Linked DNA regions of Homo sapiens: region 2 is linked to region 1. The links come from fine-mapping of genetic effects on gene expression. Tissue or cell type: whole blood. Region 1 holds a variant in brackets; the other region holds the start of a gene. All regions are shown on one strand. Distances are between the middles of the regions.

What was found. PIP is the estimated chance that this variant, and not a neighbour inherited with it, causes the effect.
Region 2: it holds the start of FAAP20, and the variant in region 1 is fine-mapped to the expression of FAAP20 in whole blood (TOPMed, PIP above 0.99).

The regions. Positions count from the first base shown.
Region 1 is chr1:2,098,776-2,106,871 of GRCh38, reverse strand. All of the region lies in intron 4 of PRKCZ (protein kinase C zeta), which reads right to left. Among named protein-coding and RNA genes, the nearest start is that of PRKCZ, 52 kb to the right of the region's middle. The variant C/T (reference allele first, on the strand shown) is at 4,377.
Region 2 is chr1:2,190,315-2,198,394 of GRCh38, reverse strand. FAAP20 (FA core complex associated protein 20) reads left to right here and starts at 3,623. Exons shown (of 4, transcript NM_182533.4): 1 at 3,623-3,707; 2 at 4,262-4,397; 3 at 4,485-4,756. The coding sequence starts at 3,646. It overlaps LOC112268219 (a long non-coding RNA gene), which reads right to left. Exons shown (of 1, transcript NR_168005.1): 1 at 5,937-8,080. RefSeq lists an enhancer at 1,989-2,655 and silencers at 3,289-3,768, 3,779-3,868.

The sequences.
Region 1 (8,096 bases):
GGCTTGCTGAAGAGTCGCCTGGCCTGGTGACACGTGTGGAGGTCCTCGCCCACCAGAGGGGCCTGCTGAAGAGTCACCTGGCCTGGTGACACGTGTGGAGGTCCTCGCCCACCAGAGGGGCTTGCTGAGAGTTACCTGGCCTGGTGACACGCATGGAGGTCCTCGCCCACCGGAGGGGCTTGCTGAGAGTTACCTGGCCTGGTGACACACGTGGAGGTCCTCGCCCACCAGAGGGGCTTGCTGAGAGTTACCTGGCCTGGTGACACGTGTGGAGGTCCTCGCCCACTGGAGGGGCTTGCTGAGAGTTACCTGGCCTGGTGACACGTGTGGAGGTCCTCGCCCACCAGAGGGGCTTGCTGAGAGTTACCTGGCCTGGTGACACGTGTGGAGGTCCTCGCCCACTGGAGGGGCTTGCTGAGAGTCGCCTGGCCTGGCGACACGTGTGGAGGTCCTCGCCCACTAGAGGGGCTTGCTGAGAGTCACAGGTATCGGCTGGAGTGCAGGTTGCCAGGAGCCAGGCAGGGTGTGCACGAGGCCTCACTATGTAATTCTCTCTACTTCTGTCAGTTTGGCATTTTTCCTAATAAAAACTTTTCAAGTACCAAGCCGCTCAGTTCTGCCTTTTGATGTTTGGATGCCTTGGCTGGAGCTCCACCTCCCTTCCCTGGCTCTGGGTCCGGCCCTGTCCTTCCCTGGCTCTAGGGGGCTTTGTGTCCACAAAATGTCAGGCTGCTCCATCAGCCACAGGGGGCTGGGGGGACACCCCATCGAAGTCCTGGGCGAGGCCCTCATCTCCCAACAATCCTGAGGACCTGTCTGGCATGGCCAGGAGACGTGGAAGGGCCACATGCAAATGAGGTGGCACCTCCCACACAGGGCACAAACGCAGGAGCCCCCTCATCCTCAGGGGGTGCCACTCGTGGTCCCAGCATGTGTGTGTGGGGGGGTGGGGCCTCATCCAGGCCTGGTGGGCAGCCCCTCCCACCTGAGACCTGAGAATAATTCTCATCCGACGATGACAACTATGTGTCTGAAAGTGACCTTCCCGGCATCACCTGGTCATCACCCACAGCAGCTCCCAGGGGCACGCAGCCACCCTGCTCCTCCTGACAGCTCTGTGACTACTTCACCCCAAATTCATTTTGCTTAGACATTTATTTGAAAAAAGACCTGGCCAGGAGTGGCAGCTCACGCCTGTAATCCCAGCACTTTGGGAGGCTGAGGTGGGTGGACCACTTGAGGTCAGGAGTTTGAGACCGGCCTGGCCAACATGGTGAAACCCCGTCTCTACTAAAAATACAAAAATTAGCTGCGCATGGTGGCAGGTGCCTGTAATCCCAGCTACTCGGGAGGCCGAGGCAAGAGAATCGCTTGAACCCGGGAGGCGAAGGTTGCAGTGAGCTGAGATCACGCCACTGCACTCCAGCCTGGGCAAAAGAGTGAGACTGTCTCAAAAAATAAATAAATAAGGCCTAACGTGACCCTTGGCCAAATGCCTAGTGCACTTACTTCTACTCCCGGATGGGCCCCGGGCACCCTCATGACCAAGCCCCAACCTCAGGGCCTTTCAAGAGTTGCGTCTACAAACACCCTGCAGGCCCTCACCCCCAGGCAGGGACAAACCAGCTGCTGGGGTCACCTGCTGGGCGGCAGTGCCGGTACACAGCGCAAGAGCTGTCTCCTGACGAGCAGGTTTGGAAGGAACAGCATGGCCGTGACGCAGTGACTTATGCCTTCAAAGCCACAGGGATGGGAAATTGCTTCATGGCACGACAGACGTGTGCTGTGATAAGGGGTTACTCGTTCTCAACAATGTTGGCTATGCAAGCGTCCTTGAGAAGTCTGAACTCACAGGGGAGCTGTCACAGATCAAGGTCAACAAGCCAGGGTGGCTGTCGGGGTGAGGCCGGCCGCGCCCTCCTGAATAAAAGGCCTGGGTGCTGTGTAATGAGGTGTGAAGAATAAAGGCTACTCACCCTGAAAACTGCTCTTCTCTCTCTGAAGACAGCACACACTCACCAGTCCCCGCTCACACCGCAACACCCGGCGAGGAAGCGCCCTCCAACTCTCCCTTTCGTGCTCGGCCCCGGGGGGCAGCAGTGAGCCCCGCAGGCCAGCCCGCTGCGTCCTGCCTGTCTGGCACCGAGCGATGTTCTGACCACCCCTCGCCAGGGCAGGCCCAGCCTCCCTCTCTCCTCCCAGTCCCCACCCACACTGGCTTCCCCTGGATGCTCCCTGCCTGGGCTCCACCCCAGGGCCTCATCGCGGCCATCCCCTGCCACCTGGGATTGTCCCCTCCCAGCCTCCCCTCTTAGGGCCCTTCCCACCATTCGCGCCACTGGATGCCTCTGGGGCTCCCCTGTCTGTCCCCTCACTCCTCTAGAACACATACCCCTCGCAGACCGATGCTGCTGTACTGGCCCCTGAACTGGACACAGAGGCCCTGAGGTTCAGGCCACCTTCTTCCCCTGCAGCTCTGGGGCAAGCACTGGCGTCTATCCAACCACCAGCCGTAACCTTCCCTCAGCCCGTGGGGCTAGGAGTCCAGGCTTCAGCCAAAGAAATCGCAACCAAGAGTTGGACCCCCTTTTTGATGTTCGACTGCTGGAGGTGTTTGAGACGACCCGCTCCCCTCCCGCCCACATCCCAGTGAGGTGATGAGGGCCCTGGGGAAAGTTCAAACCCTGCAAGCCTCAGCCCCTGCTCACCCCGCCTTGCCCCAGAGCCGCCACGGAAACCGAGACAGTCTCCTTACAGGCGCGCTCAAGACCTTTCTGGACCATCCTGGAAGACCCCCCTCCCCTGCTCTCCCCAGAAAACCTCATTATGTGGTGAGAAGCTCCCTCCCGTCTGCGTGCGGTGCTGTCATCTGTGTGGACACCTGAGCCAAATGTTGGGCAGGGGTCCATCCCATCTCTTCAGGGTGACCAGTGATTACAAGTGAACAGCTGGCGTCCAGGCCAGGAGGTGTTTAAACGGGGGCGCGTTGCCCTTCACCCCTCTCCTCCCACTGCCGCCTCAGGTGCAGCCCCCAGAGACCACAGCAGCTTGTGGAGAGGGGAGCGGCCAGCACTCACCCGCCGCCCCAGAGGCCCTTCCTTCCCATCTACTTTGCTATCCCTGTTTTCCCTTCTAGACAGTCCTCTCTCTCTTTCTCTGTTGCCCAGGCCAGAGTGCAGTGTTGCAATCATAGCCCTGCAGCCTCGACCTCCTGGGCTCAAGCGATCCTCCCTCGTAGCTAGGCCTACAGACACGCGCCACCGTGCCCAGCCTCACGCTTCTCTTCAAGGAAGCGGGGTTTGTGCTGATGAGGAAAAGTACATGACTGCATGACTGATGGAGCTTGGAGGGCTTCTTTGGGCTGGGGTGGGGGCAGCTTTCCCTGCGGAGCACCTGTGTCCCCCTCCCAGGCCTTCCCGAGGCACACGCGCCACTGGACGTGCCAGCTGCTGATGAACCATCCCCCACACTCTGTGTAACTGTGTCTTGAACTGATAAATAAATCAGTCTTGATAAATAAACCCTTACTACTGCGGCAGCTGTGTCGGCCGCTCTCCCGGGGAAGCCTTTCCCAGTCACTGGGGCTACGACTTGCTTTTTGGAGTCCTCTTAGAACAAGGCCGGGTGAGAACATCAGCTGCTGTTTGTCCACAGTGTAAGACCCACTGTGGAAACAGAGATATGAGTACAATTCTTGCCCCCCAAAAACCCCACAGTCTAGCCCGGCGTGGTGGCTCCCAGTACTTTGGGCGGGCGAAGTGGGAGAATCACTTGGGGCATTCCAGACCAGCCTGGGTAACAAATCAAGACCCCCAACTCTACTAAAAATAAAAAATTAGCCAAGCGTGGTGGTGCGCGCCTGAAGTCCCAGCTAGTTGGGAGGCTGAGGTGGGAGGCTTGCTTGAGCCCAGCTGCAGTGAGCCGTGATTGTACCACTGTACTCCAGCCTGGGCGACAGAGCAAGACCCTGTCTCTTGAGAGAGAGACAGACGGGGGGAGGGGCCAGAATATAAAAACAGTCAAGAGTCCAAAGGGTAAGGCCCCTCCAGCCCCTAGGTTTCTGGGCCCTGTGTCTCCTGGTTCTGAACCAATCCGTGACGCAGGAGAGTTGGGGGTTGGGGGAGGAGACTTGCATTTTTAGATCTCTTTCTACAAAGTTGAAATAAAGTGGAGAAAAAAATACACGAAGTTTCTAGAAATCTATCATTACTCATAACAAAGTAAAACAAACAAAAACGAGGGCCGGGCACGGTGGCTCACACCTGTAATCCTAGCACTTTGGGAGGCCAAGGCGGGCGGATCACGAGGTCAGGAGATCGAGACCATCCCGGCTAACACAGTGAAACCCCATCTCTACTAAAAATACAAAAAATTAG[C/T]GGGACGTGGTGGTGGGCGCCTGTACTCCCAGCTACTCGGGAGGCTGAGGCAGGAGAATGGTGTGAACTTGGGAGACGGGGCTTGCAGTGAGCCAAGATTGCACCACTGCACTCCAGCCTGGGCAGCACAGTGAGACTTCATCTCAAAAACAAAACAAAACAAAACAAACAAAAAAAAAAACGCAATAAAAAACGTGTACTAGGCTTCACAAAGCCCACACGAGACCCTGGAAATGAATGAATCAATAAATTACCCACCCATCCATCCTGGGCAGGACACAGGGCTGAACTGGTGTGGAGGTCGGGGCAGGGCCAGGCAGGCACCAGGGGCTGCCTACCCGCTCTGGCATGTGGCTGCTCCTGATCCTGGCCCCCAGTATGGAAGTCACCTTCTCCACCTGCTACTGGGTAGGAGCGGTGACCGGGGAAAGGAGACAGGGGATGGAAATTGGACAATTTTTCCAAAGCCCCACCTGCAATCCTTCCTCGTGAAAAGGCCCCAGGACCCCCAGAAGACACAGTCCTCTGTGACATTCCTGACTTGTCATTACCATGCCTGGCTCCTATCACATATCTGCTACATATCTGTTATAAATCCACCACGCCCGCTGTATCCATTATATACCCACCACGTATCTCTGCCGTGTATCCTTGCGTGTCTACTGTGCGTCTCGATCACGCATCCACTACGCCTCTGCCACACATCTTTGCTGTGGAGCACTGTGTCTACTCAGTACCTGCTGCTAAGTACCTGCTAAGTATCAGATGCGGTCCAGACCCAGGATGCACGGGCTCATGTCATCTTCGCAAACCCCCAGGGGAGGTGCTCTCCCACCCTCATTCTCCAGGAAGGGGAACTGAAGCCCAGGGCACTTGAAGACCTTTGCCCCGGGCCCTGCAGCCAGTGGCAGACACAGGCCGAACGCAGACTGGCTGATGGTCTCCGCAGCTGAGTATGAATGAATGAATGAATGAACGAAAGAAATGGAACAAACACAGAAACAAATGAGAGAACAAGTAAATCAGCAACAGGATGTCTCGCACCAGGGGTTGTCCCTGGAGTCTGAGGACAAAGTCAAGGGAAAGAAAGGAAGGAGGGCTGGGGGCCGGGGGACATCAGTGAGACCACCAGAGAAGGGGCGAGGAGGGGAGATGCCCGCTGGCCTCCCCCTACTGAGAGGACGTGGCCAGTGCATTTTGCTTGATTTCTTAAATCACATTTGAGATGCAAGACAGCTTTAGTAACCAAATACACAAAAGGAATGGTATCTCCTTGAAGTTAAACCTTTTAAAAAGTTTTAAAAAGGTATGGGAATAAAGTCTCCAGTTGTCAGAACTAAAATCAAGAGTTGGGAACTCACATGTCGTTTAGAGGGAAAACAAGATGGGGGACAGGGCCAGTCCCAGAGGAGACGCTCCCTTGGGATCCCTCTACAAAGTAGAATCATCTTAACGCCTTTTTTTTTTTTTTTTTTTAACAAAATAAATTGTCTTAGTCATTTTAGAAATGATAGAGAAAGTCAGACACAGGACGAAAGATGAACTGGCCAGGAGCCCCAGCCTGAAGGAGCGGGGACCACATCATATAGGGACAGCCTCCCTCACACCTCAGGGGGTGTGTTGGAAAGACTATGCCTCAATGATAGAATTAAAATGTCATCTTTCATCTCATGCAATTTCTAGCAAGACCAAAACTCCCTCTGAATAAGTCTCCTCCAACCCACGAGGCCTCTGCAGACCCCACCTGCTCAGGGCTGGGCCGGCCTCAAAAGTCCCACGGGAGCCACCACCTGGTGTGACCACTGCTGTTCACTGCACACCACCAGCCGTGCCTGTTCCTCCTGTGCCCTGTCCTGCACCTGCTCCCCGAGGCCCCGCTCGCACACCCCAGAAGGAACAGACGGGCTCCACTTTCTGTGCAAACTTGCAAGGTACCCATAAGTTCCTGTATCAGAGACATCATCGCCCATGGGGAGCTGGCCCCTGAGAGCCAGTGCCTGGAGGAGATCGTCCGGGGAGAGGACACAGCATTTAGATACAAAGGTAGGACCTTGGGAACAAAACCTGGACTCCAGAGATCAGGGAGGTGCCTGGAGGAAGGGGCAGCTGGGGCCTCTGGGCAGGGACAGACAGAGGTCTGGCTGGCAGCTTGTGCCATCCGCTTAGCCAGGCGGTGAAGACGCTGCCTCCAAGGAATTCTCGGTTACCACAGATGGTCACCCTGACGTGGGCGTTTTTCCACAAGGCAGATTTTGAAATAATTTTAGCAAAACAACCTCTACCACTGCAAAATAAAATTAAACCCAGGAAAGGCCAGCAGTATGCATTTGGGGGTGGTGGTGGGGTCGGAAGCAGGGCCGAGACTGAGCTGTCTCCCCACTGGCCCTCATAGGAATCCTAATGACAGTGTCAGCAAGACCTGGGGAATGGCTGGCATCTGACAGGGGCTGCAGGCTCTTACAGAAGATGAGAAATGGCTTCCGGTTTCAACAAGCTGGTTCAAAGCAGGGACCTCAGGTCACCCCTAACAGACGCAGCTCATCACTCTGAGGGTGCAGACCCTGGAGTCTGGTCTTTTCCCACAGAGGCATCAGTTTCTCACTTTCACCGATTTAAAAAACGTATTTCAAGGGTTTTCCATTCCTTGCGAGTGATCTGCTTTAGCACGACACGGACTAATGACCTGTTTAATTGGAACGGGAAATAGGTCACACCCAGGCCTCACTAACTCCTTAAAGAGTCATGAAATGTGCAACTAACATGGCCAGGGGCTCCCGAGGGGCCCTCACCCGACCCTCACCTCCACGCTGCCCCGTCCAGTGAGCTCCCCTCTGTCAATGCCTGGGCACCACCCACACCTACAGCCACAGCCTGTGCCGTGCCCCCGGCTGCCCACAGGGTCCTTGCTGCCCCCTCCCTCCGGGTACAGTCCTGTGAGCCTCATCTGGAAGTCACTCCTCCCCACGGCCTTCCCCACCCCGCCCCGCCCACTGCTTCTGAAGGGGCTCCTTCCTGGCAGCCGCCTGTGTCCATCACACCCTGGAACTGTCAATCATTGGTCTGCACAGTGAGCCCGCTTTGCTTTCACTGGTCCGCCCATTAGCAAGGGGCGGTTCCGGATTGTGCCTCTGGCAGCCGCCCAGCCTGGCATGGGATGAATGAATGAATGAATGACAGGGCTCCAGCTGGGAAAAGGTCTCAGACGTCACACTGAGGAGGATCCTAGCGCCAGCTGCATCGCACTGAAAATTCCCATTTATTCCCTAATTTCATATCCCAGCGACTTGTGAGAGGGGGTGTCCGTGGCCCTGGATGATGGTGATGAAGGAGTGCCGGGTCCCACACAGCTGTGTGGCTCCTTCTCCAACGAATATCCCACAGAAGTCGCAACACAGACAACAACGGAAGTCACAGCACAGACAACAACGGAAGTCACAGCACAGACAACGACGGAAGTCACAGCACAGACAACGGTGCATGCGATCAGGCCCAGAGCAGTAAAAACATCACTATTGGGCCCGGCGCGGTGGCTCACGCCTGTCATCCCAGCACTTTGGGAGGCTGAGGTGGGTGGATCACGAGGTCAGGAAATCAAGACCATCCTGGCTAACATGGTGAAACCCCATCTCCACTAAATATACAAAAAATTAGCCAACTGTGGTGGTGGGCGCCTGTAGTCCCAGCTACTTGGGAGGCTGAGGCAGGAGAATGGTGTGAACC
Region 2 (8,080 bases), 92 kb before region 1:
TGATTCATCATCCATAAATGTGTCCTTTTTTGCCACAGAGGGTAAGGGGCCTCCTAGCCCACCGGTCTGCAGGTGCGGGAGTAGGAGATGGGTGGCTCTGATGCCCCCACCCACTCGATCACCTTCTGCTCTGCCTGGGATGCAAACTCCCACAGCTGAAACGTTCTTTTGTAAACATGAATTTTGGCTTAGAAAAAACTCATTTCCACTGTGCACGTGTCAGTCCCAACCAGAAATTATTTTCCAATAAAGCAAAACTCCGTCACCACAGCAGCAGATGGCTCCGAAGAAGTGGAGCGTTTTCATCAGGTTCAACTTTGAAACCTCCACCATCACCATCACCAGCACCGCTGTGTCATGCTGATAACTTGAGGACAGGCAGGACAAGGTATGTTTGTTGGAGGTGAACATGCTTCCTTGTCTTGAGAGTCTTGAGTGGCCGGTCCCCTTCCAGGCCCTCGGCTGGCAGGCAGCTGTCGGGAAGCTGTCAGGCGGGAGGGGATTGGGGGTCAGGCTTCCTGACAAGTGGAGGCACCCGCCACGTGCCCAGAGCAGAGGTCACCCCAGTGCCTTTCTCTGTGGACTTATCTCTGGCTGTAGGTCACAGGGGCCTGCCCCACTGCCCCCTCCCCAGTGGTGACATGGGAGGAGGGGAGATTAATCCAGAGCAGCAGATAAACTGGAGGGGAAGAGCCCCCAGGAGGACAACTGTGACACGTTGTGCTGCCTCTGCGTCCCCAAAGCACCAGGCCCAGAGGCCCTGCCTTCTGCCCCATGGCACTGGCCTGGGGCCCTGGCTCCTCTTCCCTGGTGGCCAAGGGTAAATGAGGCCCACTGGGGTGGCTAAGACTCAAGGGGATGGGGGCCCCCCAGCTTCAGTGATGCGGGCTGGAGCCAGGCTCAGCCAGCCCTGAGGTCCCCTGCAGGCCCGTGCCTCCTACCCTTGGGGCACCCGCAGCGAGAGCTTCCCAAGCAGCCTGCGCCAGCCGGGCAGCGCAGGTGTCCCGGGTCTGGGTCACTTGAGACCCCGCCCTGCTTCTGCTCGGCTCTGCCCCTCTTGGGCCCAGTGGCCAGGGCACCTGCATGGGGGAGCCGGGAGGGGCTGGAAGGATGCTGAAGACCCCAGCAAAGCTCTAGTGTTTGGCTTTCCAGGGGTGGGGGCTGGGTCCTCCCGCCCAGAAAGGCCCCTGTTCTGGGGCAGCAGCCACACACAGGTGTCCCTCACATGGTCCTCCAGGACAGGGCAGGGGCCTGAGTTTCCCAGGCTCTGCCCAAGGGACCCAGGCAGGGAAGGAGATGGGTCCCAGGGGGCTCGGAGCCCATCCAGAGGCCGGCCGGTCCCATGGCAGGAGGGCACTGGACCATGTGGGGGCCATAGAGGAGGAGGAGGCAGGAGCCACCCCCGGGTCCAACAGCAGAACCCTGGGGTTGGGAGCCAGAGTGGGGAAGGGAGAGGAAGGAGCAAGAACACCCCCCACCACCCCCAGCACGGCACAGAGAGCTGAGCAAACACTTGTCACCAAGGGCTTTTCTCCTCTGTCTTTTTTTGTTTTTCGAGACAGAGTCTTGCTGTGATGCCCAAGCTGTTGTGCAGTGGTGCGATCTTGGCTCACCACAACCTATGCCTCCTAGGCTCAGGTGGTTTTCGTGCCTCAGCCACCCAAGTAGTTGGGATTAAAGGTGTGCACCACCATGCCCGGCTAATTTTTGTATTTTTAGTAGAGATGGGGTTTCTGCATGTTGGCCAGGCTGGTCTCAAACTCCTGGCCTCAAGTGATCCTCCCGACTTGGCCTCCCAAAGTGCTGGGATTGCAGGCTTGAGCCACCACACCTGGCCTATTTTTTTTTTTTTTTGAGTTGGGGTCTGGAGTGCAGTGGCACGATCTTGCCTCACTGCAGCCCCCACCTACCTGGGCTCAGGTGATCCTCCCACCTTAGCCACCCAAGTAGGTGGGACCACAGGCACATGCCACCATGCCCAGCTAATTTTTTATTTATAGAGACAAGGTCTTGCCATGTTGCCCAGGCTGGTCTCAAACTCCTGGGCTCAAGCAATCTGCCTGCCTGGACCTCCCCAAGTCCTAGAATTGCAGGCATGGGCTGCTGGGCCTGGCCTTTTCTCCTGTCTTGGGAGGCTGGGACCAGTCTTCCTGGAAGTACCCAAGGCCCTCCTGCAGACCATGGTGACATTTCCAGGAAAGACCCAGAAGCTCGGAGCTGAAGCCAGGGCAGCCAGGACTGTCGGGGAGCCCTGGACACTGGCTGTCTGAGAGCGCTTGGTCAGCTGGCACCTGCCATGTGGTGGACGTGGGGCTGCAGAGACCCCACGGCTGGGCTTCTCTCGCCTGAGAGCAGGCCCAGCCACAGGCTACCTCCCACAGGGCCCCCTGAGACCACACGGCCTGCAGCAGCTCCCCCAGGCCCCCTCCCCCTGCCCGGGCAGCACTCAGCGCTGCATCTCCATCTGCTCACTCAAGTCGAAGGGCCTGGGGGTTGGTGCCTCCATCTTGTTCTGCTGGGGGCCTCCAGCATCTAGAGCAGGAAGGTGTGCGGAAGAAAACCACTCATGCAGGGAGAGGGGGACCTCCCAGTCCAGGCCCTGCTGCTGACCCTTTCCCTGAACACCAACCTATGGCCTCCAGGCTGGGGCCCCTTGAAGGACGGTGGGCCACTCGGGTGGCCTGGGTTCAGGGCCGGGCTCCACAGCTGAGTTCTGGAGGGAGGGCACAGACGACTGGGGGCTGGGAGGGGCCAGGTGAGGGGTAGGAACAGCCAGGGAGCCCTGCAGGAGGGGTGCCCAGCATAGCCCCAAAGCTGCTGGGGCTGGGCAGGGCAGAAACTGCCAAGGAGTCCCAGAGCCCTGAGTGGCGTCTGGCGAGGGCCCCTGACCCTGATCTCTGTAGACCCCACTCCTTCCGTGAGGGTGGCAGCCACTCCAGGGCCCAGCAGGGCCAAGGGAGAGGCAAGTGGCCTGGGCCCATGGGGCACTGGGCACAGCCAAGTGTGGCACCAGGGTGCCTGGGCGGCTGCTGCCACCACGTGGCCGACTTTGAGGTCGCAGAGCCCGGGGTCCAGGCAGGAAAGCCCCTCAGCTGCCCCCAGGGCCCTGGCCCAGGCCCCTGAGGCCCAAGTGAGCCACCTGGACTTTGTCACTTCGCCTCTGGTTTCTTGGTTAAGGAGCTTGAGTTCCCCGCCTTTTGTAAAGAAACGGTGGTGGCGACGGCGGATTTCAAGCTTTATTTACTCCTGGAATGGTCCTGGGAGGAGAGGCGGCTCCGCAGAGCCGGAAACGGGGGCGGGAGCTGTTGGGTGCAGCCGGGAGGAGGCAGTGCCGGGGCGGGCCGGGCAGCCATCGGGGTAACGGAGGGGGCTCCGGCCCGGGGGCTGCCCGGACGGGAAAGGGGACACGGGCGGGGCTCCCCCACCTGGGCCCCCCACCCTCACGCCAGGCCCCCCTGTGCGGTGCAGGACGAAGGAACCCTGGCCTCAGTTTCCCTACAGGCTGGGATCAGGGCCCCTGGGGTTCCGACTGTCTCGGAGGGGGGCGGCCTCGCTGCAGAGGTCTGGAGGCGGGGCCGGGGCGGGGGCGGGGCCTGGAGGGGCGGGGGCGGGGCTTGCGCTCACTTCCGCCCGGCGCGGGCTTGGATGGAGGCGGCGCGGAGGCCGCGGCTGGGGTTGAGCCGCCGGAGGCCGCGCCCGGCGGGCGGGTGAGGCCGGGAGCCGGGCGGGGGCGCGGCCGGTTTTCCCGCTCCCACGTGCTTCCCGGCGCCCCCGCGGGCCTCCCGCTCTATTCTCCCCCTGGGGAGGGCTCCCTGCCCCCGGGCCCGGCCCCCACGCCCGTCGCCCCACCCCGCGCCGCCATTCAGCGCCCGCCTTGAGCCCCCACCCCACGCCGAGCTTCCCCCGCGCCGCCCCAGGCCCTCCCGCGCCTCTCCCATCATCGCGTCTCCCCTGAGCACCCCCCATCTAACCCTCTACCTTCCCCAGGCCCTCCGCAATCTCCCCAACCATCGCCTCATCCCGCTGAGGACCCCATATTTCCACCCACCCACCCCGCTCCCCCACCCCCAGTACCCCTCATCTCCGCACTGTCTGCCCCAGCAGCCCTTCCCCCAACCCTGCCGGCCACCTCCCGCACCATCGAATTTCCCTCTAGTACCCCCCATCTCCCCGCTCTCTCTGCCCCAGGCCCTCCCGGGTCTCCCCACCATAGCGTTTCCGCTACTGAGTACCCCCTGTCTGCCCTCTCTGTCTGCCCCAGGCCTTCTGGCGGCCGCCCCTGGTTTCTCCTGGGGGGTGATGAGCGGGAGCGGCTCTGGGCCGAGCTACTGCGCACGGTGAGCCCGGAGCTGATCCTGGATCACGAGGTGCCTTCACTGCCCGCCTTCCCAGGACAGGTGTGCCCACTGGGCCCATCTTAGCGATGAAGGGGTTTCCAGGGCGGGAGCCATCGCTGGGCAAGGCCCAACAACTCTGTGTTGCAGGAGCCCAGGTGCGGCCCGGAGCCCACTGAAGTCTTCACTGTCGGACCCAAGACCTTTTCCTGGACACCCTTTCCGCCGGACCTGTGGGGCCCGGGCCGTTCCTACCGGCTGCTTCACGGGGCAGGAGGGCACCTGGAATCCCCCGCCAGGTCCCTGCCCCAGCGCCCGGCACCTGATCCCTGCAGGGCCCCCAGGGTGGAGCAGCAGCCGTCTGTGGAGGGTGCCGCGGCCCTGCGCAGCTGCCCCATGTGCCAGAAGGAGTTCGCCCCCAGGTGAGTAGGCCACCCCTGCGCCCGGCCCGGTTATCCATCCGTGTTTGGAAACCACAGCCGTTCAGAAGGTCAAGAGGTGGCCGAGCTCAGCGCTGGCTTTTAAAGCCCTGTTTCACACTGGAAAGGTGGCCCAGTGCTGTGGCCTGGCATGTCCAGGTGGCTCTCTGTCACGGGTCTGGGGTCCACCTGCTTGCCGTGCTCTGTGGGCAGGGCAGGCTGGGGGCCCACAGAACAGCACAGAAGGAAGGCTGGGAGCACTGGCCCCGGGTCCACCTGGCCATCCTGGAATCTGGTGGCACCAGCGTCCCCAGGCCCAGAGCACAGGAACACCTTCCCGAGAGTGCGTCATGGGTTTTAAAAATGAAGATCGTCTTTTTTGTCTGGAGATGCTTTTTCTTATTTTTGAAACCCAACGTATATTTTTATGTATTTTTTAAGTAAAGGGGAATGGAACCCAGTTTTGCTAACAAGATAACCCAAACTGCCCAGTGCCTGGCCTTGTGTCTGGCGACCTCTGGGCCCTTGGCCTCCGGAGCAGGTCCTGGGGCTGGGGTGGTGTGAATGATGCTGGTTCGTAACTTTTGGTTGAGTTAATGGGCGGCAGGTTTCAGAGCTTATGGAGACCAGGTCCTTCAGTCATGCCTGATGCCCCTGGTCTTCCAGAAGCAAAAACAGCTCGGGAATGCGAAGGCACCGGAGTCCAAAGTTGGCAGCCAACAACAACAACAACAAAAGAAAAGGCCGGGCACGGTGGCTCACGCCTGTAATCCCAGCCCTTTGAGAGGCTGAGGCAGGTGGGTTGCTGGAGCCCAGGAGTTTGAGACCAGCCTGGGCAACATGGCAAGATCCCATCTTTACATGCCTGGGCGTGGTGGCGCGTGCCTGTGGTCCTAGCTACTCTGGAGGCTGAAGTGGGAGGATTCCCTTGAGCCAGGAATTGGAGGCTGTAGTGAAGTATGATTGCACCACTGCACTCCAGCCTGGGTGACAGAGTAAGACCCTGAATCACGGACAGAGGGTACTGTTGGGAGCCCTGGGGAGAAATCCATGCTCTTGGCTGAAGCTCTGAGATCCTTGTTGCTGTCAGGGTGCTGCCCCCCGCCCCCCGGGGAGGGGCTTTTGTCTTTGCATCGCCTGCTTTTCCAGATAGTCTAAAAAAAGACTTCTGAAGACAAGGACGTTCACGAGGAAAAACTTGCCATTTTGAGCTTTTTAAGCAGTTGCTGAAAGCTTGGCAGACTGCCTCAATTTTTCCTAAGTAGGCGTCAATGAAGTCAGGTCCAGGCCTTGGTGTGTCTGGAATGCTTCAAGCACATTCGAACACTTGATCGTAAGGGAGAGCCGGTACTTTGGAACCGGAACTCACCCGAGGCTGTGGCCACCGCATGGGCAGGCTAGCTGGGGGACAAGCCCCATATCTTTGGGAACAAGGGTTTGCACAGCCACCCTGGGATGCCCTGGGACTCCTGACCGCACAGGACCCCAGCAGGGAGGCCGCCTGGATTGGAGGGTCTGGTCTAACAGCCGGACTTGGTCTTGAACCGTCGCCCTGTCCCGCACAGGCGCCTGCTGAGCCTGGAGCCCTGGCAGAGGCGGGTCTGGGGAGTGGAGCTGCCAGGAGGCCTCCCATTTCTCACAGCCTTGGTGTTCTCCGGGTCACCCAGAGGACCGTCAAATGCTGGATTTGACAAACTATGTAGAATGTTCTTTGTGTCTTTAAGATCTTCTTGTGGTCCTATTTGGACATTTTGTGCATTTTCAGACACCTGCGGGTCACGTGGGTGGATGGGAAGCTGGGCACCTGGTGAGGGGTGAGGATGTTGAGAGCCAGAGCTGCGTTTTGTCTCTGTTGATGTGGCGAGGCCCTGGGTTGGTCACTGGGATTTTTTTTTTTTTTTGAGACGGTGTCTCGCTCTGTCGCCCAGGCTGGAGTGCAGTGGCATGATCTCGGCTCACTGCAACATCTGCCTCCCGGGTTCAAGCGATTCTCCTGCCTCAGTCTCCTGAGTAGCTGGGATTACAGGCGTCACCACACCTGGCTAATTTTTGTATTTTTAGTAGAGACAGGGTTTCACCATGTTGGTCAGGCTGGTCTTGAACTGATCTCAGGTGATCCGCCCGTCTCGGCCTCCCAAAGTGCTGGGATTACAGGCGTGAGCCACCGCGCCCGGCCGGTCGTTGGGATTTTAACAGCCCTGAGGCCCCTCACGCTGCCAGGTGCCAGCCCACCCTGCAGCCCTGCTCCCCTGCCCACACGCAGAAGCCACCAGAGGCTTCTGGACTGAGCCCCCACTGTCCTGCAGCCGGGCTGGCCTGTCCACACCACAGGGCGTGCTCAGCTACTGAGCAGAAGCGTCACGGACAGGGCAGATCAGGCCAGGACAAAGCTCTTCCGCCACAGGCGGGGGTCTGAAGGCATCTCAGAGGGCCCCCAAACAAGGGACGCTGCCTGGAAACCCCGGGACAAGATGACCTCGGTTCAGATCTTAGCACCTTCTGGCAACCTTAGAGAAAGCTTCTGGAGGGAGGGGCTGGTTCCCAGGATGGGCAGAAGCCGGAAAGTCTCAGACTGAGTGACCCTCGGGGGCTTCAGAAGGCACTGGGTGGGCTCTGCCAGAGTGAGAAGGCAGCTGATGGCTGCTGGAGCCAGCCCCGGGAGTGGGGGTCCAGCTATGGTCTGGAGAGGGGGACTTGAGGGTTGCAGTGGCCACACAGACGGGGCACAGGAGCCAAAGGAAGGGACACAGCAAAGCCCAAGGGTAAAACGGCGCGCCGTGGACTGGTCTGAGGGCAGAGGCTGTAGGGGAGCGAGGGGCGGTGTGGCTGACAGGTGGACACAGGGACACGTGTCCTGTGGACTTGGCCGCTCAGTGGGGGTGTGTCCCCCAGCAGTGGCGTGTGAGGGATGGTCACTCTGATGGGACACTGACCACTTGGCCTCCAGCAAGATCTAGGCCCAAGTCTAGGCTGAAGCCGCCCACTCAGCCCCGGGACATCGTCCCCGGCAGCTCTGCTGAGCACGCCAGCTCCGGCACTCTCCGGGAGTCATGGCCGGAAGTCAACTGTCCTGGCTTCCAGGGCCACACCTTGGCCAGGCCTGGTGATGGTCATTTCCAGCCGCTCCAGTTGGGCTGATGGGGCCACATGAGGCCGGGGATAGAAGGTGGCTGCGCTCAGACACCCCTCCCGGCCCCACTGGATGCCCAGGGCGCTGACCTGCAGGACTCGGATGGGTTTTCTCCTGCCACCCCTGCCTGGCCGGCCACCATCCCAGCGCCAGCGCCCTCCTGAGAGGTGCAGGGGCCGCGTGGGGCCTCCCAGAGT